Linked DNA regions of Homo sapiens. The protein of the gene in region 4 interacts with the protein of the main gene of each other region in a biochemical or structural test. Each region holds a gene or a part of one and is shown on either strand. Other genes may lie near its edges.

Region 1 (3,500 bases), on a different chromosome or scaffold from region 4:
AGTCATGCCCAAGGGTTACTTCATTAATAGTGAATGTCTCTGTGCCCAAGGACCAAAATTTTATCCCAAAACTAAATCCTCCAAGGAATGAAAGGTTGGACTGGCTACAAATTAGGGAGGGAAAAGAAGGCATCTAAATGTTGGATAAACGGCCCTAGAAGGGGTTATTAGGAACAGGGCCTAGGCACCAAGTGTGGCAAAAGTTTTTGTGAATCCTTTTAAGGTCCCTATCGAGGCTGCTATCTCTGGATTTAAGGTTTGGCCTCCAAGTCATGAGTCTAGTAACAGTTCTGAGAATAAAACCGAATGGGGATACATCTGAGAAATGTAGACTACATAAAAAAACTATAGAATACAATGACTGCCCCTCATACCTACTTCACACTATTGTATGTGGTGCCCCTCAACAGGAAAACCCTCATGGAGACACTGCCCTGAAGACTCAAGGAACAAATATAAATCCAAAAATTCCATCCACCTGACCTTGGGATCAAAAGATCTTATCCCAATAAAACTTGAACATCAAAACCTGTACCTTGCCGGATGCTCAGAAAGTTTAAAATAAAAAACAGCTGGTGCCACAAAACTCACTATCACCACCATTAAAACCTCAATATGTACTTCTAACTAGCAAAACATTCTTTACCTTCCATTAAAGGCACTAGCATCCATACGTGAAGATGAAACAATAATTTACCTTGGTTTTATATTTTTTTAAAAAGCATTCCATTAAAGTATTATACAAAAATGAAAACACCACCTTTTTAATTTTGGCAACTAGGGAGAAGAAAAAAAAACACACAAACTTTCTACACCAATGATGTCACTCAAACCGTCGTCATCAGTTTCAAAGAGCCAGACCGAAAGCGGAGGATCTTCTTCTTGAGGTTATGTGAGGCCTTAATTTTGACAAAGGTTTTTGCGGGGTGGTTGTGAAGGTCTGGGGCCGTTACCGTTTGAATGGGCAGAGTCTGGACAAACTGGGACCAAATTAAGCCCCCGCTTTCTTCAGAGTCGCTGGTGGTTGTGCTCTCCCCCACGAACTCGCCCTCGCTCACACTCGACTCGCTGTCCCCGAAGCAGTTGGTGGTGTAATTGCTCTGCTCGTCCTCACTGGTGTCCACCACGGTGGAGTGGAACAGGGACTCGCACTCGGCCGAGTACTCGGAGTCGCTAGCCACGTAGGCGTAGGGGCTGGCGTAGGGCAGAGGCACAGGCGCGGGGTACAGCCCCACATTCTCCCGGCGACCGCGCCGGGCCCTCCTCAGGGCCTCTTCGTAGGAAATCTCGGCCGAGGACTTCCACCGCCGGTAGTCAGTTCGCTTGTGCTTAGGTTTGGCCACCACCGCCTCCCGTCCGTGGCCATGCGCCCTGCTCCCCGCCCTGTGGCCCCCGCCCGCGGGCCTGCCGGGAACACCAGCCTCGGGCCCGCCCCCACTCTTCCTCCCCTTGGAGGAGGCTTTCTTGAGTTTCTTATTTGTATCCAAGTCATCTGGGAAGCGACACTTCTTGCTCCCGGCCCGCGTTTTCTCCCTGACGGTGGGCAAGCCGTTCTCCAGCCCCTGGAGGGCTGGGCCGCGGTGCTTCAGGCTGGAGTTCTTCACGACGCCCATGTTCCTGTGGCCCCGGTGGAGCCTGACACTGGGCTGCTGCCCCGGGATAAACTGGGCCTTGACCAGGTGCGCTTCCTCCAGGCTTTGGGAAGAGCCCTCGCTCTTGAAATCCAAGGCAGGCCTCTCTTCCACGGGGAAAGCTGTAGACAGCAGGGGAGGAGTGGCCGGGGGGACGCCCTGCAGGCTGTTTTTCTGTGACATCTTTTTCAGGGGCTGTACAACTTTGTTCTCCTGCGGCGGGGCAGGGCCTCTGCTAGGACTCTCTTTTGGAGAGGCCCCTGAGAGCTGAGCGCTTTCCTTAGGGGACTCCCCTGTCCCAATGGCGGAACACCGAGCATGTTCTTGCGAGGCTGGCTTGGCCGTTTTTGGCAGGTGCTTACTCTGAAGGTCGGAGGCAGCGCCTGAGGGGCAGCCCTCTGGCAGGGGCACCCTCTTGCTTTCGGCTTGTTCGGCCTTTGATTCTTTCGACCACTGCTTCGGTGGGGAGAATGTCCCATTGTTCAGAGAAGGTATCCCGCCAGAGGGCAGACACGCCTGTTTCGAATTCTTAAGGTTCACACTGTTGCCCTGTGAGACACCGCCCGGGGCTCTGACACAAACGCTCCCGTTCCTCAGAAGCCCTTTCGTGGGGTCAGCGTTCACGCTGGTTCTTGGTTTGTTGGTCCTTACAGGGTGTGTTTTTTTCTGGACCAGGCTCAGAATGTAGCCATCCATTTTCTTGCTGGATGAAGGATGGGAAGCAGACCACAGACTGCTTGGGGACGGTAAGGAACTGTCTGTTTTGACGGCATCTAGCTCAGATCCACCGCAAATGTCACTGGCATGGTTTCCAAGCCTGTCCTCTTCCCTCAGAGGGTTGCCCGTCAGACAAAGGAGAAACATTGGGCTCTGCACAGCCACAGCATGAAGTGGACTGGGATAGCGATATACATCATTCCCGTTTTTAGACACCAGATCACACTGGTACTTGGGATTCACATCTGCAATGACATCAAGGGAATTAAATTGTGGTGTGGAGAGGGAACGGCAAACTGCCCCTGAGGCCTGGTCTTCACAGTGGCCTTCTTTATATTCCAACAATCCTATGAGATCTGAAAAACAGTTAAAGGTACACTCTGAAGAAATGAATTGGTCAGCACCAGCTTGACTCTTTGGCCAATTTTTATGAAAAATCCATGGGTAAAAAGAGATTGCCAAGGATTAAAAAGTGCTGCCCTACCATTTCACATGTAGGTACTGCTACTGGATGAGGGGGAAATATTTAACAAAAATTTTTGACAGCATATGATATATCCTCTGAAGGAAAAAAATTCAGCCATTAAGAGTGTTTTCAAACTACTGCATAATAGAGGGAAAACACTTTAAAGTTTAGTGAAAATCATGATATAATACTAGAATATGATTATAATCTTATTAGGATCACATGTATGCAAAGAAAAAACATCTGAGATGAAGCACACCAAGATTCTAGTAGTAGTATTTCAGAATGATCAGAAGTAAGTGATATTTACTTTCTTCTTTATTTTCTGTTAAACTGTCTGTACTGCGTTTACAACTGGGAAACATTTTTTGAATCACTGTTTCTCTAGGCTGCTCTCCCCTCTGTTCTATTCCTGGCTTTCTTTAGGATAAACTGTACGTTCAGTAGGCTTTCTCCTCATTTTGTGTTTTTTTAAACCTAATTCTTAATGACATCCATTCAAATATAACTGTCAATTGAAAGGTGATGGAAACTGATCAAACTTCAGTAAAAACTGATCAGATTTAAATAATAATCGCCTTATGTTTTCAATAGTGATGCTAAAAAAATAAAACAGGGGCCAGGTATGATGGCTCACGCCTGCAATCCTAACACCAAAAGGCTGAGGCCAGAGGATCGCTTAGGCC
Region 2 (3,500 bases), on a different chromosome or scaffold from region 4:
GATGGAGTGCAGTGGTGCAATATCGGCTCACTGCAACCTTCGCCTCCCTGGCTCAAGCGTTCTTCCCACCTCAGCCTCCCAAGTAACTAGGACTACAGGTGCATGCCACCATACCTGGCTAATACTGTTGTCCACAGAGATAGGGTCTTGCTATGTTGCCCAGACTAGTCTCGAACTCCTGGGCTCAAGCAATCCTCCTCTCTCAGCCTCCTGAAGTGCTGGGATTACAGGCATGAGCCACTGTGCCCAGTCCACACTTGACATTTACCAAAAAAAAAAATCCTATATTATAGTCCCAGTGAGTGGTGAGGTTACCACCCGATATCAAACAATATTTTCATAGCAAAATAAATACTGAGCAAGAGCAATAAAGGCTATCAGTAGCCCTGTGTCAGTTGAGGTTGGGTTTTGCCACCAAGTAAATATAGAAGACTAACTGCTAATTTAGGGGGGAAAACCTTGGTATTCAGAGACTGTGTCAGAGCTTGGAATTGCAGATAAGAGACATGTGGTTATTAATGTAACAGAGTGATAATCCTATCGGGGGAGGCATTTCCTGAAGGCCCTTGGGGAGGGCATGGCCATCCCCTCCTCTCCCACCTGCAGGTCCCAGCCATGGTGGGACGACCATACCTCAGGTCCTCGCCTCGGTCAGCACACTTGTACTGCAGCTGGCCGGGCAGGCTGGCCACCAAGGCTTTGAGCTGCACCGTCTCCAGGGCTGCCCAGATAGCCTCGTCCGAGTGCTCCTGCAGCAGGTCGAGGTTCATCCGCAGAGAGCCAGGGAACAGGATGGGGTCCTGGCGGGGAGGGGCGGTGGGTCAGAGCCGGGTCCCACCATGCCTCCCATCTTTGCCCACCCCCTCCACCAGCCTCACCTGGGGGATGATGCTGATCCTGGAGCGCAGTGTGTGCAGCCCCACGTGGGCAATGGGGACCCCGTCGATCCAGATCCCACCCTCAGCTGCCTCCTGGAGCCGCAGCAGCCCACTGGCCAGGGAGGACTTCCCTGCCCCGGTCCTGCCAACGATGCCCACCTGCCCGGGGTTGGGAGGAAAGGCCTGCTCTGACCAGAGGGTTTGTGGGCATTTATTGGGGAGATCTTTCTGCTGTACCCGAGATCTGTCTATCCATCCCTCATTGTGTAAAGGTCTACCTTCCATCTCTCTTTCCATCTGTCTACCTTTCTATATATCCACCCATCAATCCATCCAGTCTTCCATCTGTGTTCTTCTCTATCTTTCCCTTATCCTGATATCTCTCTCCCATCTTTCTCCCCACCCTTCCTTTAGTTCCTCCATCTTTCCTCATCCTTCTATTTACACCTCTCCATCATCTCTCATCCTTTTTTCTACCCCATCCCATCCATCTGTCTGTCCGTCCATCCATCCCTTATCCTTTTTTCCACCCCATCCTGCCATCCATCCATCCATCATCCATCCTCAATCCCATCCCTCCATCTCTCTTCCACCCCATTCCATTCATCCATCCATTCATCTGTCTATCCGTCTCTCGTTTCTTCTTCCCTATTCATCCATCAATTCACTAATCCTTTCATTCATTTATTTTCTCCCATCCATCCATCCAGTCCATCCTTCCCTCATCCATCCTTCCATTCATCCTCCATCTTATCCATGTGTCCATTCTGTTATCCATCTCCCATGCTGTTATCCACCCTCCATCCTTATCTCTCTTGCTACTATTGCATCCTCAGTGTCTGACACATGGTGTGGGTTCAACATTATTTGTTTAATTAATGATGGAAACATGTGGGTCACCCCACTGTATGCCAAGTACCTGTTTAGGCACCGGAAGTATAGAAATTAAAGAGTCCTTGCTCCAGTGTGCCCATCATCCGGTCTAGGAAACAGTGCAATTGAGTAAATGTAATACAGTGTGATGAACAATGCTTTATTTATTTATTTATTTATTTATTTTTGAGATAAAGTCTTGCTCTATTGCCCAGGCTGGAGTGCAGTGGTGCGATCTCAGCTCACTGCAACCTCCACCTCCCAGGTTCAAGCAATTCTCCTGCCTCAGCCTCCCTAGTAGCTGGGACTGCAGGTGCCTGTCACCATGCTCGGCTAATTTTTGTATTTTTAGTAGACACGGGATTTCACCATGTTGGCCAGGCTGGTCTCAAACTTCTGGCCTCAAGTGATCTGCCCACCTTGGCCTCCTAAAGTGCTGGGATTACAGGTATAAGCCACAGCACCCAGCCAACAATGCTGTTTATTATCAAGGTCTGGACCTCTGGCAATTAAGGGAAGCAAGGCAGTGCTGCTCATGCTGCCTGGGATTTGACAGAGGTAATAAGAGAAGACCTCATGGAGGAAGGGATACTTGCATGGAAGCTTGAAGGATCAATAGGAGTTCAAGGAAGGGGAACACTCCAGGTAAACCACACCAAGTGGGTTTCCAAAACTAGAAGCTCATGGAGCTCACAGCACCATGTGCCCCCCTGGCCGAGAGGCAGCTGCTCCACAATGTTGGCTAAGCCCTGGCAGAGCAATGAATGAGAGGGGGAGGTTGGCAGGGCCTGGGTTGGGTAGAGCCTTGAATGCCAAGCTCAGGAATTCACACTTTACCCCAAGGGAAGCTGGAACTAGTAGAAGGTTTTGAGCAGGGGAATGACATGCAGTGTCATTCATGCTGATAAAGGTCACAGGATGGCTGGGCATGGTGGGTCATGCCTGTAGTCCCAGCACTTTGGGAGGCCGAGGGGGGTGATTGAGGTCAGAAGTTTCATAGCAGCCTGGCCAACATGGTGAAACCCTGTCTCTACTAAAAATACAAAAATTAGCCGGGTGTGGTGGCAGGTGCCTGTAATCCCAGCTACTCAGGAGGCTGAGGCAGGAGAATCACTTGAATCTGGGAGGCGGAGGTTGCAGTGATCTAAGGTCACACCACTGCACTCCAGCCTGGGCAACAGAGTGAGACTCTGTCTCAAAAAAAAAAAAAAAAAAAAATCACAGGAGAGCAGATTGGAGCTGGTGAGACAGGATCCACTGCTTTTTAGGGGACAAGGAGAGGACAGGGAGGAAGCCTCTGTAGGTTCAGAGGGAGGGAGGAAAGGGATTCAGTGAAGGGGCCTGATGAGGCATCTGTAAAATGGGATAGTACTAGCACCTCACTTAGGGGTTGTTGTGAGAGTGAAAACGCAAATAATAAAAGCATTAGTAAACATTTCTGGAGCACTTTCTATGAGCTAAGCATGTTCTATGTATTAACTCAAACTTCACAACAACTCAGAGATCAGTATTACCAGTCCCAATTTACAGATGGGAAAACTGAGACTGAGCTATGAAGTGCTTTTCCCAATGTCTCCCAGCTGAAAGCAAATATCCCATTTGTGCAAACTGGAAAATGTACCTGGAGCATTTAACACACTGCCCAGCACATATTAGGTGCTGGGTTAATGTTAAAGGAAGAAGGAAGTCACGGAGTTGCTTCCTCATCTGGGGACACCAAGGTGGATGAGGAAGTCACCAGATGGAAGC
Region 3 (3,500 bases), on a different chromosome or scaffold from region 4:
TAATTCTGGCCCTTCAAACTGTGGGTGTGAATCCCATTACTAGACTCTCCAATCCTGACCCGTCCTTAAAATCATCCAATAAAGCGGACTTGAAGATGGGCACTAGTCCTGTAATACAAAGCGTTTCATCATTAGAATGGCTGATTTGTTTCCTTCCTGCTGTCCTTGTCATGACATGGGTTCTTGGCATAGCCTGAGAAACAAGAGAAATTGGTCCAGTAACTCCTTATTGAATTGCCTTTCTGCAGGCCTGGCGCAAGCGCTGGTTTGTCCTCCGGCGAGGCCGCATGAGCGGCAACCCCGATGTCTTGGAGTACTACAGGAACAAGCACTCCAGCAAGCCCATCCGGGTGATAGACCTCAGCGAGTGTGCAGTGTGGAAGCATGTGGGCCCCAGCTTTGTTCGGAAGGAATTTCAGAATAATTTCGTGTTCATTGTCAAGACTACTTCCCGTACATTCTACCTGGTGGCCAAAACTGAGCAAGAAATGCAGGTGTGGGTGCACAGCATCAGTCAGGTCTGCAACCTTGGCCACCTGGAGGATGGTGCAGGTAAGAGCGGAGTTGGGGCTCCCATGTGCTAAGGGGTATCCCAGGACTGGAGGGTTACTGCAGAAAAACAGTTCAAGATGCCAAGCCTGCCTCCTTGAGGGTGTTTTGGCAGGCTAATTTATATCAGAACTGTTCCTACCAAATACAATACTGGAAATTGCCCTCTTTTACCCAGTCCAAATGTGGGAAGGCAGAGTCCATGAGCACACTGAGCATTGCAGGTTACTTTAATGGCTTTAAAACCCCTTCATGTCTTTGCTCTCATTCAGCCACAGTGAAAGTCAAATGTGGATGAGGATGTCTTCCCATGATGCTGACACTCATGACCTTCTAGAAATATCAAATATTGCCATACTTCAAAATATTGTGGAACTCCAGCATTTCTGGTGCCTATTGGGTTGTTCATCACTAAATGGTAGAAAGAGAGAACTTGGCTACTTATCGTAGGCAAGAAAGATTTCCTGATACCTCCAAATGTCTCAAGTTCTCTGCAGAGGAAATTAGTTGTAAGTTTGCTCTGGGCCATTTCTGGGCAGTGGGAGCAATTGACCCATGAAGAGTACCCCAGAGTCTCTCTCTCTCTCTCTCTCTCTCTCTGCCACACGCACACACGCACACACGCACACACACACAACTCATCCTATGTAATTTTCCAGGTATATTGTAACCTAGGGTTACAATTAACTTCCCTTCATGGATTTTGTTGTTGAGCCCCTGACATTATTGCAACATGTCCTATTCCTCAAAATATGAGATTTTGAATCTGGTTTCTTTTAGCCTCTTAGTCTAGTAGACAAAACTTTGCCCCTAAATCCTGTAATCTATAGTTGCTTCAACATTTTAAGAGTTACTGCATGGTTTCCACCATCTGCCACTGAAATATCCACACTCTAACGCTAGGTGGCAATGGAGAGTCAGAATTGAATCTCCCTCCAGGACAGGCACAAGAGTGTGCTTTCTGAGAACACATTCCTTTTCGTTTCATGAACCAGGGAAGCATATTAAGTGAGGCTATTCAATAATATTGCTGAGCATTGGGAGCACTCAAATAAAAGGAAATGAAGTGATGGCAAGTTCTTTATCCTTGGTACAATGGACAAAACTTAATTGGAAAAGCAGCATTAAGTAGGTTCTGGCTAGAGTCTGACATTATGCAAATCAAGCAGAACCTCCCTGACCAACTAACTTCTCCAGCCTTGCTGCTGGCTCTTTACCACCCTGTTGTGCACCTTCAGCCTTAACTAGGTATATCGTCGTATACTGTGTTATATATCTCCTCTGTTTCTTTCCTTATCCAGGAGTTATCCTAAAACATACATATATAATATGTTTCCCAATAACCCAAGAGCACCAGGAATGAGTAAGGCACCAGGCCGAAACTGGAGAGCCTGTCCCGGCATGAAGTTGGAGGAAGCCAGAAAACTCACCTATGACCCTTTCCATTCTCTGTAGCCCCCCGCCTCAGTTTTTAGAACCACATAAGAGCAGGGTCCTCTTCATCTGAGAATTACACCCAAAGGGCTTTCTTGTGACTTTTCACAGAGTGTTTGGTTCTGTCTCCAGCAACCATATAGTAGTCAACACATTGTGTGTGTACCCTGGCCAGGATCTCTGTTGAAATGCTTTTGTATATTAACTTGTCTCATCCCCACAGCAGTTCTATGGCCTATGTGTGATTACTATCTCCACTTTATAGAAAAGGAAACTTGGAGAAGGCAGGCCATGTAGTAATGGCTATGTAGTAGAGCCTGGACTTGAACCTAGTTAGTTCTGGGTCATCCTGACTCAGGAATCCTGGACTATTAACTTGGTTCAAAAGGGAAATAAAAGCAGGCTTTTCATTGGCTGTTTCTGATCTGGAGTTCTCATTGATTCCTGATTCAAATTCATCTTAAGGACCATGTTCTCAGGTGATGGGGAGAATGTTATGCTCCTTGAGAAAAAGAAATGGACTTTTCCAGCCACCACAGCACTGTGTTTCTTTCCTTCCCTTTACTTATAACAGTGATGAACAGGACTCTTTATTTATGTGTTATTTGTCTGTCTTCTCTGCTAGAATCTAAACTTCAATAAGGGCAGGATCTTTGTCTTGGCTGTATTGAGGGTTAGTGGCATTCTGGGCACATGGTAGATGTAATAGGTATTCTATATAGACATATACCTATATAATAAACATGTATAGGTATACATACATATATGCACAAGTACATATATAACTATATGCATGTACTTGTTATGCATATATATATATATATATATATATATATATATATATATATATATGTTTGTTAGTTGAGTGAAAAAACAATGAGGCAAGGCTGCTGCTGAGGGCCATAAAGAAGCTGTGCGTAGATTAACTGCAGATTTTTGGGCCAAGAATGCTGGGTTTTTTACTCTTAATTGATTCAACACTTTGCTCTTGAAACATTGGCCTTCTTTCCCAGACATTGTTTATAGCTTGGGGAAATGGTCTTCTCCATCAGTACAAACACCAGCTGTGATTTGCATCTTCTGTTTGGCTTCTTTGATGCTGTTGGAGAAATTTTGAGTGCGTGTTATAGCCATTCTTAAACATTAACCTGGGAAATGATTTCTCCAGCAGATTCCATGGAGAGCCTCTCTTACACGCCCTCCTCCCTGCAGCCATCCTCTGCCAGCTCCCTTCTTACCGCCCATGCTGCCAGCTCCTCTTTGCCAAGAGATGACCCAAACACTAATGCCGTAGCCACTGAGGAAACCAGAAGTGAGTCAGAGCTTCTCTTCCTTCCAGATTATCTGGTTTTGTCCAACTGCGAGACTGGAAGACTGCACCATACCAGGTATGCTTATGCCCAGGACTCTGTCTGAGCTGGGCCTGCTAGCATGCTCTCTAGAGTCACACTGCCTCCTCTTGCAGTCCGTAGCTGAGATGTGTTCAGTGTGCTTCACCAAATTAGTCCATTTAGTGG
Region 4 (3,500 bases):
GATTAGAAGAATAGTGAAATACTAATAAGATCTATAGTTAGATGAGACATATAATTATTAAATTTCCTGATTTTGATAATAAAACTATGATTCTATAAGGGAATATCCCTGTTTTTTAGAAAATACACACTGAAATATTTAGAAGTAAAGGGACATCTACCTGAAACTTACTCTCAAGTGTATCAGAAAAAAACCTATAAATGTGGTAAAATGTTAACACTTGAGGAATTTGGGTGAAGGGTACATGAAACTCCCTGTACTATTCTTGTAACTTCTATTTAAGTCTGAAATTAGTTTGAAAAAAATAAGAAAGCACAAGGTTTAAAAACCATGACCCTTACTGATACTCAGTGTGAATGTCAAATTTAGGCTGATATTATTTCAAACAAACAAGTAACAACAACAAAAATGTCCAAAGACTTGAGGAGGAAGTTAAAGGACAAGGCGAGTAAAATAAGAATATTGGGGAGTTGCTACCTACTTTTTTTTTTTTTAAACAAATAGTATTTCAAAACGGATCAAAGGGCAACTAATCATTAAAAAGGGGCCAAGACTACACAATAGGGAAAGGCTAGTGTCTTAAATAAATGGTGCTGGAAAATCTGGATATCCACATGCAAGAGAACGAAACTAAACCCTTATCTTATACAAAATTAACTTGAAATAGACTAAAGACTTAAATGTAAAACCAGAACCATAAAACTCCTAGAAGAAAACACAGGGAAAAAAGCGCCTTCACACTGGTCTTGGATGATTTTTTGGAAAGCACAGGCAGCAAAATAAAAAATCATCAAGTGGGATATTAAATAAAAAATCTACACAGCAAAGGAACAATCAACAAAATGAAAAGGCAACCTATGGAAGAGGAGAAAATATTTCCAAACATGCAATTGGTAAGGGGTTAATATCCAAAATATATAAGAAAATCATTAGCAAAATACCAAATAATCCATTTAAAAAATGGGCAAAGGACTGGAATCGACATTTTTCCAAAGAAGACATACAGATGGCCAGCAGGTATCAGTAAAAGTGCTCAACCTCATTAATCAGAGCAACAGAAACCAAAACCATAATGAGGCTGGGTGCAGTGGCTCACGCCTGCCATCCTAACACTTTGGGAGGCTGAGACGGGCAGATCACTTGAGGCCAGGAGTTTGAGACCAGTCTGACCAACATGGCAAAACCCTGTCTCTACTAAAAATACAAAAATTAGCCGGGTGTGGTGGCATGTGCCTGTAATCCCAGCTATTCAGGAGGCTGAGGCATGAGAATCGCTTGAACCCAGGAGGCAGAGGTTGCAGTGAGCTGAGATCATGCCACTGTACTCCAGCCTGGGTGACAGAGCAAGACTCTGTCACAAACACACACGCAAACCATAATGAAATATCACCTTAGACCTGTGTGGATGGCTGTTATCAAAAAGATAAGAGATAACAAGTAGGCAATGGTATGAAGAAAAGGGAACCCTGTACACTGTTGGTGGGAATGTAAATGAGTAAAGCCATCACAGAAAATAGTGTGGACATTCCTCAAGAAATTATTATTACTATTATTATTTTTGAGACAGAGTTTCACTCTTGTTGCCCAGGCTGGAGTGCAATTGTGCGATCTTGGCTCACTGCAACCTCCGCTTCCCAGGTTCAAGCAATTCTCCTGCCTCAACCTTCCAAGTAGTTGGGATTACAGGCATGCACCACCACGCCCGGCTAATTTTGTATTTTTAGTAGAGAAAAGGGGTTTCGCCATGTTGGTCAGGCTGGTCTCGGACTCCTGACCTCAGGGGACCTGCCCACCTGGGCCTCCAAAAATGCTGGGATTACAGGCATGAACCACTGTGCCCAGCCACCTCAAAAAATTAAAAACTGAGTTATTATATGATCTAGCAATCCCACTACTCGATATATATACAAAGGAAAGGAAATTGGGCCAGGCGTGGTGGCTCACACCTGTAATTCCAGCACTCTGGGAGGCTGAAGCAGGCGGATCACTTGAGGTCAGGAGTTTGAGACCAGCACGGCCAACCCTGTAACCCTGTCTCTACTAAAAATACAAAAATTAGCTGGGTGTGGTGGCATGTGCCTCTAGTCCCTGCTACTTGGGAGGCTAAGGCAGGAGAATCAACAGAACCCAGGAGGCGATGGTTGCAGCAAGCTGAGATCACACCCGCATTCCAGCCTGGACAACAGAGTGAGACTCTGTCTCAAAACAAAACAATAAAAAACAAAAAGCCAACAACAACAAAAAGAAAACCAAAGGAAAATAAATCAGTATGTTGAAATCTGCACTCCTATGTTCACTGCAACATAATCAACAATAGCCCAGATATGAAAATCACCTAAGAGTCTGTCAAAAGATGAATGAGCCGGGCCCGATGGCTCACGCCTGTAGTCCCGGCACTTTGGGAGGCCAAGGCGGGCGGATCACCTGAGGTCAAGAGTTCGACTAGCCTGACCAACATGGGGAAACCCCATCTCTACTAAAAATACAAAATTAGCTGGGCATGGTGGCACATGCCTGTAATCCCAGCTACTCAGGAGGCTGAGGCAGGAGAATCGCTTGAACCCGGGAGGTTGTGGTGAGCTGAGATCATGCCATTGCACTCCAGCCTGGGCAGCAAGAGCAAAACTCCATCTCCAAAAACAAAAAAGATGAATGAATAAAGAGAATATTGTAGGCCAGGTGCAGTGCACCTATAATCCAAGCACTCTGGGAGGCCGAGGAAGAACGATTGCTTGAGCCTAGGAGTTTGAGACCAGCCTAGGCAACATAGCGAGACCCTGTCTCTACAAAAATAAAAAATTAGCCAGGTGTGGTGTTGCACGCCTGTAGTCCCAGCTACTAAGGAAGCTGAAGAGAGAGAATTGCTTGAGCCCAGGAGGTTGAGGCTGCAGTGAGCCATGATCATGACACTGTACTCCAGCCTGGGCAAGAACAAAACCCTGCCTCAAAAACAAACAAACAAAACCAAAAACAGGCCGGGCACGGTGGCTCACGCCTGTAATCCCAGCAATTTGGGAGGCCGAGTCGGGTGGATCACGAGGTCAGGAGATCAAGACCGTCCTGGCTAACATGGTGAAACCCCATCTCTACTAAAAATACAAAAAATTAGCTGGGCGTGGTGGCAGCTGCCTGTAGTCCCAGCTACTCGGGAGGCTGAGGCAGGAGAATGGCGTGAACACGGAAGGCGGAGGTTGCAGTGAGCCGAGATTGCGCCACTGCACTCCAGCCTGGGCGACAGAGCCAGACTCCATTTCAAAAAAAAACAACAACAAAAAAAACCCCCAAAAAAACCCAACAACAAACAACAACAAATATATATATATATGTATGTATGTATGCATGCATATGGTATATATACAACAATGGAATATTTTATTAGGCCATAAAAATGAAAATCCTATCATCTGCAACAACCAACATGAGTGAATGTGGAGGACCTTATGCTATATGAAATAAGCCAGACACAGAAAAGCAAATACTGTATTTCATTTATACGTGGA
Region 5 (3,500 bases), on a different chromosome or scaffold from region 4:
AAACATGGAAGAAGGATTGCTGAGACGTGGGGAAAATCCTACTTGGGCCTAGGAATCATGGAATTCTAGTATGGACAATCAATGAGACCTTGTGATTGTGTTCTCCTTGGCTTATATATTGGAGCAACAGTGATTCAGCTGATCATTCAGAAGAATGGGTTAACAACACAGACGCCAAAAATAACAGAGATCAAGGGAGTTGAGAGACTTGGCAAGAAAGAGCAGAATATTAACACTTATGCAGCACCTACTGTGTGCCACACACTATTCTCAGCAGTGGATCAGAGAAGCCCAAATATGGCCACCCACATAAGTCCATCCATCTATCCACTCTTCCATGTATAAACACATATAGTGCTTCCTAAGTGTCAGGCACCACTCTAAACATCAGATGTATTAACTCATTTAATCCTCCCAGATAGGAGCTATTAGGATCCCCATGGAGCTATTAGAATCACCACTGGGACAGACTGGGAAACTGAAGCACAGAACACTTAAGTGACTTGCCCAAGATCACGCAGCCAGTGACTAGTAGAGCTGGGATTTGAACCCCAGCCACCTAGCTCCAGAATCCATGCTCTCAACTCAACCATGCTGCTTCTCTACAACCATATCAATTGCCAGTGTCTAAACCACAGGTTCTGACTCTCAGAATACAAGCAGGACCAAGAGCTAACCGGTTGACCCAGCCTCTTAGAGAAAATGATGAGTAAGCTGTGAAATGTCTTAGCTCCTGCCATAAATGCTGATGAATCTCAGCTGATTCTAGGTGAAGCTAGATTTCCAAGTACACAGACTAAAATTAACACCTCGAATTCATTCATTCAAAATTATTGATTCCTTACAGCAGCATTGTTCATAACAGCAAACAAACAAACAATCCCCCACCCCAAACTAGAAACATCCCAAATGCCCATCGTCCTGCTTGAACCCGGGAGGCGGAGGTTGCAGTGAGCCGAGATCGCGCCATTGCACTCCAGCCTGGGCAACAAGAATGAAACTCCATCTCAAAAAAAAAAAAAAAAAAAAAAAAAAAAAAAAAATATATATATATATATATATATATATATATATATATATATATATATATATATATATATAAATTTATGTTGTTAAAGCTGGGTACGGTGGTGCATGCCTATAGTCCCAGCTTCTCGGGAGGCTAAGGCAGGAGGATCGCTTGAGCCTAGGAGGTCGAGGCTATAGTGAGCCATGATCATGCCACTGCACTCCAGCCTGGGTGACAGAGTGAGACTCTGACTCAAAATAAATAAAATAAAATTCATTGAGTTGGCTACTTCACAGGATGATTATATATGCCATGTGCTTTCTGGGTACAGTATCTTTTAACCTTCTTACAATTCCTCGGACATAGGACTACTGTCCCCGTTTTACAGAGGAGAAGACTGAGGCTCCACAACTGTGAGCTGGAGCTGAGATTTGCAGCCAGGGTGGACTGTTCCCAAGCTCTATATGTCTCCCCTCCATCCAATATCACCTTCCCTCCTCTTTTCCTCCTTACAGCCTCCACTGCTTGTGCTGTTAATCAAACAGACACATTCCTATGCAGACGCCACAACATGCCACGAACACATTTCACTGCAGTGATGGTCAGCATAGCCCTCCCACCCACACACACCATGCCCATCATTCTCAATAAAGAAGATAATAAAGATCATGGAGATAAAAGAACGTGACAGACTCTGGAAGATCAGAATCCATGTAACACCACTGCGGGCCAAGTTTTAAGTCTGCCCCAGAGTCTCATTGAAGACAAATCCATCCACTTTTACAAAAAGGTAACATCCAGACTTCGCCCTCCTGCAAATGCTGTTCGTATGAAAATACTTTAAAAATCAGTTTAAAATTACATATATTTTTTACACATAGGCCTAAAATGAGAACAGAACTTAACAGCATGAATATTATTTACTGGCAAGTGGGTGACTAAGTTGGGTTTCCCTCATGGCTTCAGAGAGGGGACTCTTGAATCCTGTTATTTGGGGGCTGGGGGTGGGAGGCTGCTAATTTCTAACTGCAGGTGCCGCCTGAGCAACAGGCACCTTTAAGGAAGACTCACGGCTGCTCCCAGTCTGAACGGCAGATAAAGCCGTGTCTGACCGAAGCGAGATGTCAAAACTTGATCCGGACTTAACTCAGGCATTTCCCTTCATAGCTGGAATCTCTCTTGTATTAGCTGCCTTAAAGACGGCTTCTAAAAGCTGCATTCATTCCAATAAAAAGTCTTGGCTTTTCAGAGGGAATAAGTAACTGACTCTCCCCCTTTCTTGGTCAACGGCACCATCTCTTGCACCATTCTTCTCTCTCAGGTGTTAAGAACTCACCATTAGGGTGACCAGCGTCCCAGTTTGCCCAGGACTGTGAGTTTCCAGAGATGCTAAACCCAGGATAGTCCCAGGCAACCCTGGCTGAAGGGTCACCCTACTCAGATAAGAACTGAGGCCCAGTGGTTTTTGAAACCTAAGTTGCTGTGCCCACTCATGGTTCCCTCGCCAGGAATGTTCCTTGTTTTTCCTATTTTTTTAGGGAGTGAGGAGAAAGAAGACCAAAGTTTGGAAGGGGAGGGGGGTACCTAAATTCTAAACCAAAAGTTGAGCAAAGTTTTTCTGTGGAGTTTGCAGTGGACACCTGGGGTGGCCATCCTGGGCTGCACTCTCGACCGGCCCCAAAGGAAGAGACAGGGAGTGCAAAAGGGGAAGAGGGAAGCTAATTATATACTTTAAAACTCCCTCACCTTGTCACCCACAGAGAGAGGGAGGGACCAAAGGAGGAAAGAGAATTAATTTTTACCTTAGACTCAAGGGAATAGAAAAATGGGTCAAGTGGCCACGAATTTTTTTTCCCCTGAAAGCTTCCAGAGAGAACGGAGAATGCAAAATGTCCAAAGGTGGCTTTAAAGAGCGCCACGATCAGGTTAATCAATCCACACTGACCAGTCGCAGGGGGTGGTGGGGGGGGGCACTTCGCTCCCATTCCCACCCAGAAAGCCTCTTTTCTGGCCGGTTTCCAAAAAAAGAACACTGGAACCTAAATGACTCCATAGTATTACGGCTCTGGCGTTTTGGGGTTTTTCTCTGTGCTGGAGACTGTGCTGGCCATTTTTCACGCACGACCCCATTTAATCTCCTGAGAGCCCTCCAAGGGAGATGCTACTAGAAGGAATATCCTCATCATGCATGTCAAGAAATAGGCTCTGGTGCCCAAGATAACATGGCTGGTGAATAATGTGAACCTGGGCCAGTCTGACCCAGAGTCCGGAGTGTTTTCCCTCTCCTCTCTGCCCTCTTTCAGAGCAGGCACCATCCCATCCGGCCCTTTTCTCAGGAGCTGAGCTGGCATTCTCGGAAATGCGTTACTGCACGGCTCTTAGGCTCTGATCATTTCTGGATGGAGTCCACCTTCCCGGCGGTGCTTTTTATTGCTGAGAAAGTGTATATGTGTGCTTGCTACTGGGGGGGAAACAGGGAGGGGGAAGCATA
Region 6 (3,500 bases), on a different chromosome or scaffold from region 4:
GCCGAGATGGCACCACTGCACTCCAGCCTGGGGATAAGAGCAAGACTCCATCTCAAAAAAATAAAATTAAGGTAAAAAAAGCCTACTTACGGCCGGGTGCGGTGGCTCACGCTTGTAATCCCAGCACTTTGGGAGGCCGAGGCGGGCGGATCACAAGGTCAGGAGATCGAGACCATACTGGCTAACATGGTGAAACTCTGTCTCTACTAAAAAATACAAAAAATTAGCCAGGCGTGGCGCCGTGCACCTGTAGTCCCAGCTGCTGGGGAGGCTGAGGCAGGAGAATGGTGTGAACCCGGGAGACAGAGCTTGCAGTGAGCCAAGATCGCGCCACTGCACTCCAGCCTGGGTAACAGAGCAAGACTCCGTCTCCAAAAAAAAAAAAAAAAAAAAAGCCTACTTATTATATGCTAGATGTTAAAGCATTATACAGGTTAAAGAGGGAAATAAATCAAAATCATAAGTAATTATAAAATAAGGCAGAAATGATTAATGCCAAAAGAGAGAGTATAACAGGATTAAAGAACTCACAAATGCAAAGCACATCACTTTTTAATGCAGTGGACTGCCAAGGGCAGAACTTACCTTTAATGGACTTCACATCTGAGGTCTTCTCTTGTTCTTTGCCTTTCACTAGAACATAAAAAGATAATTATGACCAACTTTTGCAGTCAGAGATCCATTCTATAACACTGTAAAAATTAGACCAGCTTTATTCTAAGATGAGTATTCAAAGTTCTAGAACAATGGACAGCCTTGGAGGAGGGCACAGGAGGGTAGTTGTCAGCAAAGGCTTCTCTAAGGAAGTGACCTTGGAACAGCATCCAGTCAAAAGAGTTGAACCTGCTTATGGAGAGACAATGTAGTCACAACATCTGGGGTCAAATTCTGGCTCTACCACTTATAAGCCATGTGATCTTGGACAAGTTACTTACTTCTCTGGGTCTTAATTTTCTTGATTTATAAAATTAGGTCAATAATAAAAACTACCTTAGAGGATTATTGATGAAAAAAAATATATACCTGTAAGGGGCTTAGAAGAGTAACTAGCACAGTAAATTGAGGACAAATGCTAACCAATATTATTACCATGTGTCATCCATAGTACTAGCTACTAGAAGCATAGTGAAGAAAGGTCTTTGGTTGTGTATCATATCTTATTACTTATTCCTCCCATAGCATCAAGTGAAAACATCCTAAGCCTCTAACACTCAGAGTATAATAATTTGTCTGGGCCAGGCACGGTGGCTCACGCCTGTAATTCCAGCACTTTGGGATGCCAAGGCGGGTGGATCACCTGAGGTCAGTAGCTCAAGACCAGCCTGGCCAACATGGTGAAACCCCATCTCTACTAAAAATACAAAACAATGAGCTGGGTGTGGTGGCGGACACCTGTAAGCCCAGCTACTTGGGAGGCTGAGGCAGAGAATTGCTTGAACCCAGGAGGCGGAGGTTGCAGTGAGCCGAGATCGCGACACTGTACTCCAGCCTGGGAGACAAAGAGAGACTCCGTCTAAAAAAATAAAAGATAAAGAATAATTTGTCTGTAAAATAATCATATAATTGCTTCCTTACTACATAAAACAGTAAAAATTCTGCTGTAGATAAGCTAATATGACATCCAAGATAGGAAGGTGCCCAGCAGCTTAAGCCAAGTGTGAATTCTATCACAGGATCTGACATAAGACTATTTTTAACCCTCTTTTCTTGTTTTTTTTTTTCAACATTAAAAAATCTTACCAGGAAAAGGTTATCAAAATAAGAAATGCCAAAACGTGCCCATCTCTGTATTTGTGCTCTTAAACATTGAAAGGTGAAAGGCTAGTAGCAGGAAATAACTCGCCCTCAGAGTATCTGGATGAAGTCAATACATCAACTGTTGAGTGCTTGGTATGTGCCAGACATGCTCCCAGCTCAGAAAAGGCAATGATTTTGCCTTCAAAAAGTCTACATTCAAGTGTGTGGAGACTAACATGAAAAAAATAAATAAGATCGTTGCAGGTACTGATCACTGCTGTCAGGAAGACGACATTTAAAAATGTTGTAGGGTCACTGGTGTTTGCAGCCCTCTCAGCAGCATCTGCCCATGGACTACATCACTCACTTTAAACATTAACTTGTCTTGGCTTCCTTGACTCCTCTCTTCTGCATATACATCTGTATTTCCTGGCTGATCCTACCCATTCTTAAGGCTTACAATACCATAGATACGCTGTTACTCCTAAATTTATATCTCCATCCTAAATCTTTTATCTCAAATTCATATAGCTAACCACCTACCTGCCATCTTCCATAATTCCACTTGTCTAAAAGGGAACATGTCATCTTCTCCCAAACCTGTTCCTACCTCAGTCTTCATCTTCCCTCATGAATGACACTGTCATCCACCCACTACTCAGACCAAAATTCCGGAAGTCATCCTTAACATGGTCTGTTTATTACCTTCCACATACAAACTATGACCAACTGATTCTACTGCCAAAACAAACCACCACGGTTCCACTTTTACCACCTAAAAACATTCTCCTACTATCAATCAGATCTCCTATGTTATACTTCTAACATATACACAACTCAACAATCAAATATCAGCATTTTGCTTTATTTCCTTCTGTCCCCCTAAGTATTATACATAGACTTTAGAGTTCCTATGAATCACCACCTGACCCTTCCTTTCCCAGATATAAATACTTACTAAATTAGATATTTCCTGGCCAAGCGCAGTGGCTCACACCTGTAATCCCAGGACTTTGGGAGGCCAAGGCGGGTGGCTCACTTAAGGTCAGGAGTTCGAGACCAGCCTTGCCAACATGGTGAAACCCTGTCTCTACTGAAAACACAAGAATTAGCAGGGTGTGGTGGCGGGTACCTGTAGTCCCAGCTACTTAGAAGGCTGAGGCAGAAGAATCGCTTGAACCCGGGAGGCCGAGATTGCGGTGAGCTGAGATTACACCACTGTACCCCAGCCTGGGTGACAGAGCAAGACTCTGTCTTAAAAAAAAAAAAATAAATAAATAAATAAAGACATTTTCCTTCCATGTACGTTTTTTGACTATGACCACATACAAATACTTTTTATTTTTATTTTTTTGAGACACGGTCTTGCTTTGTTGTCCAGGCTAGAGTGCAGTGGCCTGATAACACTCGAACTCCTGGGCTCAAGTGATCCTCTCATGCCACCATACCTAATTATCCTTTCTGTTGTTGAGATGGGGTCTTGCTATCTCGCCCAGGCTAGTCTTGTACACCTGGGCTCAAGTGATCCTCCTGCCTCAGCCTCCCAAAGTGCTGGGATTACAGGTGTGAGCCACCACACCCAGCCAAACGTGTATATATATACATGTATGTGTATTTTTTTTAATGGCATTATTCTGCACATCTTTAAAAATCACGCAAATGGCTGAGCACGGTGGCTCACGCCTGTAATCCTAGCACTTTGGGAGGCCAAGTTGGGTGGAACACTTGAGGTCAGGAGTTCAAGACCAGCCTGGCCAACATGG
Region 7 (4,227 bases), on a different chromosome or scaffold from region 4:
GAAATTTCAGCAGTAAGTAGTCTGGGATTTGAAATATACAGGTAATTATATCATTCATTCTCTTCCAGTCATATGTATACACGATACACAAACTATCTTGGCTACCCAATTGATCTTTTCAAATAGCTCTAAAATGCGTCACCAACAGGTATGAAAACAAGGTATTCGACTTACATTTAAAAAAAATTTTCAAATCACAGCTAACAATGTTAACCTAACTTCAAAGAAGCCACATTTTAGGCTGGAAAGATTTTTAAAGGACTGGTGTACTGGACAACTAATAATGTGTGTCAGAATAGGTGCATCATATATTCTACTTGCTTCAGTGGACCTAAACTATGGAGAGAGGGGAAACTGCAAGAATATAACTGGGAGGGTGGGAGGTGGAGACTGAGTATGCAGCACTCACTACAGGCATCATGGGAATTTGCGAAAGGTAGTCTATGAAGGTAATCAGACTCCCATGGAGCCAAGATAGCTTGTCTTTTAATATTTCAGCAACAGACTCAAACTAAAGTAACCTTTTAGACAAATTCAAAGAACGGGGTTTTAAGCATTGTTGCTTCCTGTATATACTCTGGCTCTTTCTTCCATCACTGAGAAACGGAGAAGGTGGAGAGTGAGGATAATTGGTGGGAATCTAAGATATTGGAATTTCAATAGCAAATACATAAAGAGAAAAAGCAGCAGCAAAGATGAGCCACTGCAGGACTTTGTCTTAGTCATCTTTATATCCCCCATGGCACCTTAGCACAATGCACTGCACACAGGGGTGCAGTCGATAAATAATGTATTAGGTTTAATTCAATTCACTCACATTTGTACTGCTTAGCAGTTACAAAGCAGTTTCCACATATTAGAAAAGAAAAGCAAAGTAAATGAGGAATAAAGGGGCAAGTAAGGGAATAAAAGGAAAGCAAAATAAAGAAAAATCCACAAGAATAAGCAAGCGGCCAAAAAGGCTGGGGAAAAGAATGAGCAAAAAAAATCAGTTTCTCCCTGTCACTCTCAATCCCTCCCAATCACCTCACCTTTCGTTCTAAATTATCTGGAGCTTAGAAAGTCTGACTGTTAAGTAAGCCCAAGAAGGGGCTCCTTCATCGTAGGAACGGGCATTTTCAGCGATAATAAGCCTTTGGTCCCTGACTGATCTACCTAGAGTTTGCTCAGGTATGACCTCGAGCAAAGCGCTAACATTTCCCAAGTGTGGCCACGCATCCTTTATTCCATTCCATCCCATCCATCCCCTCTTCAATTCCCAAAATCTTAGGGAAGAGTTGGGCCTGAGGATCCAAGGGGTTGGTGGGTGGGGGAGTCCTCTACAAGCCCCTTAACTCAGACAACAGAGGGAGGTAGTGAGACAGGAAAGCCCAGGGATCAGAAAAAAAGCTCACGTTTGCGATTAGGAGGGTGAGTGTCTATAACTGTGGTTATTATAAATCGCCAGGGACAAAAGGGGGAACCTTCAAGATGGAAGAAATGTGAAGGTACCTGAATGCGCATCACCTTACATCTGGCGTTGAGCCCTTAATAAAAAGCCGTGAGGTCCAAAACCTCGACTGGCTTGAAAGGGAGAAAGCAGAGAAGGCAAAGGATGCGAGGGGATGCGCTGGAGGCAGCCCAGAGACAGCAGCAAGGATGCTGTCCCAGGGGAAGCATGATGTCCTCACCCTCAAAGTAGCACATACCCCCACCCTGGGCATCCTCAGCCAAATCTGGGTGTGGGGGGATGCCAGGCTCCGAATGGGGGCGGCCGCGTCCTGACCCCATTATGTGGGCTAAAAGTTGCTTGGGAGAGTTGGCGCTGGGGAAGGCACCTGGCAAGGGCGGCCGCCGAGGGGGCGTCAGCTTTCCCAGGAACAAAGGGGCCAGGAAAGGGCGACCAGGGGAGCAGGTCCTGGGGGAGTCCACCCTGAGCTGGGAGATAAGGGTCGCCACGTCCTCCTGGCCCGGGGGCAGTAAGGGGAGAGGGGAGTACGCAAGATGCGCCGGTATTCTGCCTCCCGACTTCCTGCCTCCAACGGGGTGGCGCCCGCTGCCCTCTAGCTCTCTGGCCGCTCCGCGCCCCTCTAGCTGGAGACAAAAGGAGACCGGGGACCCCAGGCCCCTGCCAGTCCTGGAGGACCCCCGCCCCGACGCGTACGACGATCCGCCAGTGGAAGCCGCGGTGGCGGGCTCTGGCGCGGCGGGCGCCCCCTCCTAACCTCGCACTGGTGCCCCGCGCCCCAGTGCCGCCTCACCCTCCCCGCAGCGGGCATTACCTTTCATCCAGTCCACTACTTGACTCGGAGACCATTTGCTCACCGGTTCCATTATCAGAGCCATGGGTACGGGGTCGGTTCCGTGCAGAGCGCAGAGCTCAGACACAAAACGAACTCAGCAGCCCGAGCTGCTCTCAGGTGGGGTCCCTTGCTGGCCGCAGCCTCCCTGGGCGGGCGGCGCGGAGAAAGCGGCTTTTGTGTGTCGGGTCTCGCGGCTGTAACGTCTTTTAGCCAACCGCCGGCAGGAACGGCGACAGGGAGGTAAACGTGCAGGAGTCGTGGCTCCGCGCCGGGTCTGCTCAGTTCCCGCTAAGGCGGCGGCGGCGGCGGCTGCTGCTGCTGCTGCTGCTGCTGCTGCTGCTGCTGCCTCCGCCGCTCCGCTCCGGTCTCCGTCCCTAGGGAGCTTCAGTTCATAGCTTGAGTTGCTGAGGGGTCGCGTCGCCGAGGGAAGCAGCCTCTGCCGCACGCCCTCAGCCAACTTGCCCGCTCGCCTCACGCGCGGGAGTGAAGCCCCGAGCACGACTAGCTGCCCGGCGGAAATGACGAGGGGCCTCCTGCCACCCAAAATATCTCTCCGCAGCCCTCGGGTGCGGGGCGCGCGCGCCACGAGCCCCCCGCCCGCTCGCTGCCGCGCGGTCCCGCCCCCAGGGCCGACGGCAGGCGCGCGAGGCGCGTGCGCGTGCGCGTGCCGGCACGAGGCCGGAGCCCAGGGTCTGTCTGGCAGGCAGACAGGTGCCAGCAGCTCGCAGCCTGGCGTTCCCGCTCTGGGGGCCGTCCGGGAACAGAGGCGCGCGAAGTGCGCGTGCGCGGCGGCGGAGGCGGTGGCGGCGCGAGGCAGAGCCAGAGCCCGGGGTCGGTCAATCAGGTGCGGGCGGCTGGAGCATGGCTTTGTGAGGCCTCTGAGGGGACCCGGCGGTGGCGGCCACGGCGGGACGGGCCGCCCACCAGTTGAACTCCGACAGCTGAGGCGGCTGAGGAGGTATCCGCGGCCCCACCACCGAGGGGAGGGGGACACCACTGAGCGCGGGGCTTACAGCGAGAGCCCGGGCTTTCCTGGCTCTCGCTTTCGCCCTCGCCCTCCCCGCTGCTGAGTGGGCTCCGGAGGTGATTCCCGAGACCCGCGTACGCCTGCAGAGACGGAGGTGTGGACTGCCGTGGACGAGAACGGGGCTCCGCCTGCCAGAAGCGCAGCGATGATGAGGCAGGAGGGCTAGTGCTGTCGGATCTTCCCCGGGTGATGAGCGGGTCCTGGGAAGTCAGGCGTTGAGGCTGTCACCTGCCAGCTGCTGGTTGTGGTGATCCTGAGACAGGTTCTGCCCCAAGTACCATTTTAAAGGGCTCTGTTTCAGGTTTTGGGCCAACTCCTCTAAAGTACCTATTTTAGAGAAGTCATTTTGTGTTTGATATTCTTATATATTAATAAGAACCGAAGGGCAACAATGGGATTTAAAATGAGTGACAAATTGTAGACATGATTTTTCAAAACTCATTTTCTTCAAAAACCATACACAGGCTACTATGCAACGGTTAGTAAAATACAGTTTGCCTAATGAGGCTTCACTTTAAAAGACAAATATTCCTAGAGTGTAGATGCTAACTCTCTGCCACCGTTATAGGCGTTTTCTCTATCATTCTTAAATAGGTCCATTAAGTAAAAGAAACTTTTTAAATAAGCATTCCAGTAATGTCAATAGGTTTTGCCAGTTCCTATGGTAACCCATTTTCTCTAGTCCAATTTTATAAGATGCAGAAATGTCACGTTCTTTAACCGGCATGAGTTGACGACACCCTTCCCCCCCACACACACACACACAAACAGCTGAAACCACAGTAGTTAAAATATTGTGACGTTTTTAACTGCTGATTTCAATGCTAGTGATAGCGAACAAGTAAAATTTAAGATGGCCTGTATTTAGGCTTCTTTATTTTTCTAACTATCCAAACTTAGAAGTATATGCAGAATTTT

Evidence for each region.
Region 1: the proteins of DLG1 (region 4) and DACT1 interact in a test that uses a peptide from one of them, tested with the Homo sapiens proteins (one large-scale study listed by IntAct).
Region 2: the proteins of DLG1 (region 4) and ABCC6 interact in a test that uses a peptide from one of them, tested with the Homo sapiens proteins (one large-scale study listed by IntAct).
Region 3: the proteins of DLG1 (region 4) and GAB3 interact in a test that uses a peptide from one of them, tested with the Homo sapiens proteins (one large-scale study listed by IntAct).
Region 5: the proteins of DLG1 (region 4) and CACNA1A interact in a test that uses a peptide from one of them, tested with the Homo sapiens proteins (one large-scale study listed by IntAct).
Region 6: the proteins of DLG1 (region 4) and AKAP10 interact in a test that uses a peptide from one of them, tested with the Homo sapiens proteins (one large-scale study listed by IntAct).
Region 7: the proteins of DLG1 (region 4) and CNKSR2 interact in a test that uses a peptide from one of them, tested with the Homo sapiens proteins (one large-scale study listed by IntAct).

Annotation. Positions count from the first base shown.
Region 1 is NC_000014.9:58,644,462-58,647,961, reverse strand, and holds part of DACT1 (dapper homolog 1), read right to left. Parts: intron 2,705-3,500; coding exon of another isoform or gene 2,594-2,704; coding exon 828-2,593; 3' UTR 1-827.
Region 2 is NC_000016.10:16,153,995-16,157,494, forward strand, and holds part of ABCC6 (ATP-binding cassette sub-family C member 6), read right to left. Parts: intron 1,861-3,500; exon of another isoform or gene 1,798-1,860; intron 1,038-1,797; coding exon 879-1,037; intron 801-878; coding exon 634-800; intron 1-633.
Region 3 is NC_000023.11:154,713,078-154,716,577, reverse strand, and holds part of GAB3 (GRB2-associated-binding protein 3), read left to right. Parts: intron 1-248; coding exon 249-552; intron 553-3,151; coding exon 3,152-3,371; intron 3,372-3,500.
Region 4 is NC_000003.12:197,047,113-197,050,612, forward strand, and holds part of DLG1 (disks large homolog 1), read right to left. Parts: intron 1-3,500. UniProt on the Homo sapiens protein: Essential multidomain scaffolding protein required for normal development. Recruits channels, receptors and signaling molecules to discrete plasma membrane domains in polarized cells.
Region 5 is NC_000019.10:13,496,480-13,499,979, forward strand, and holds part of CACNA1A (voltage-dependent P/Q-type calcium channel subunit alpha-1A), read right to left. Parts: intron 1-3,500.
Region 6 is NC_000017.11:19,967,829-19,971,328, forward strand, and holds part of AKAP10 (A-kinase anchor protein 10, mitochondrial isoform 1 precursor), read right to left. Parts: intron 634-3,500; coding exon 586-633; intron 1-585. UniProt on the Homo sapiens protein: Differentially targeted protein that binds to type I and II regulatory subunits of protein kinase A and anchors them to the mitochondria or the plasma membrane.
Region 7 is NC_000023.11:21,372,996-21,377,222, reverse strand, and holds the start of CNKSR2 (connector enhancer of kinase suppressor of ras 2), read right to left. Parts: upstream 2,801-4,227; 5' UTR 2,326-2,800; coding exon 2,262-2,325; intron 1-2,261. Other genes in the region: uncharacterized protein LOC105373146, read left to right, coding at 2,801-3,240.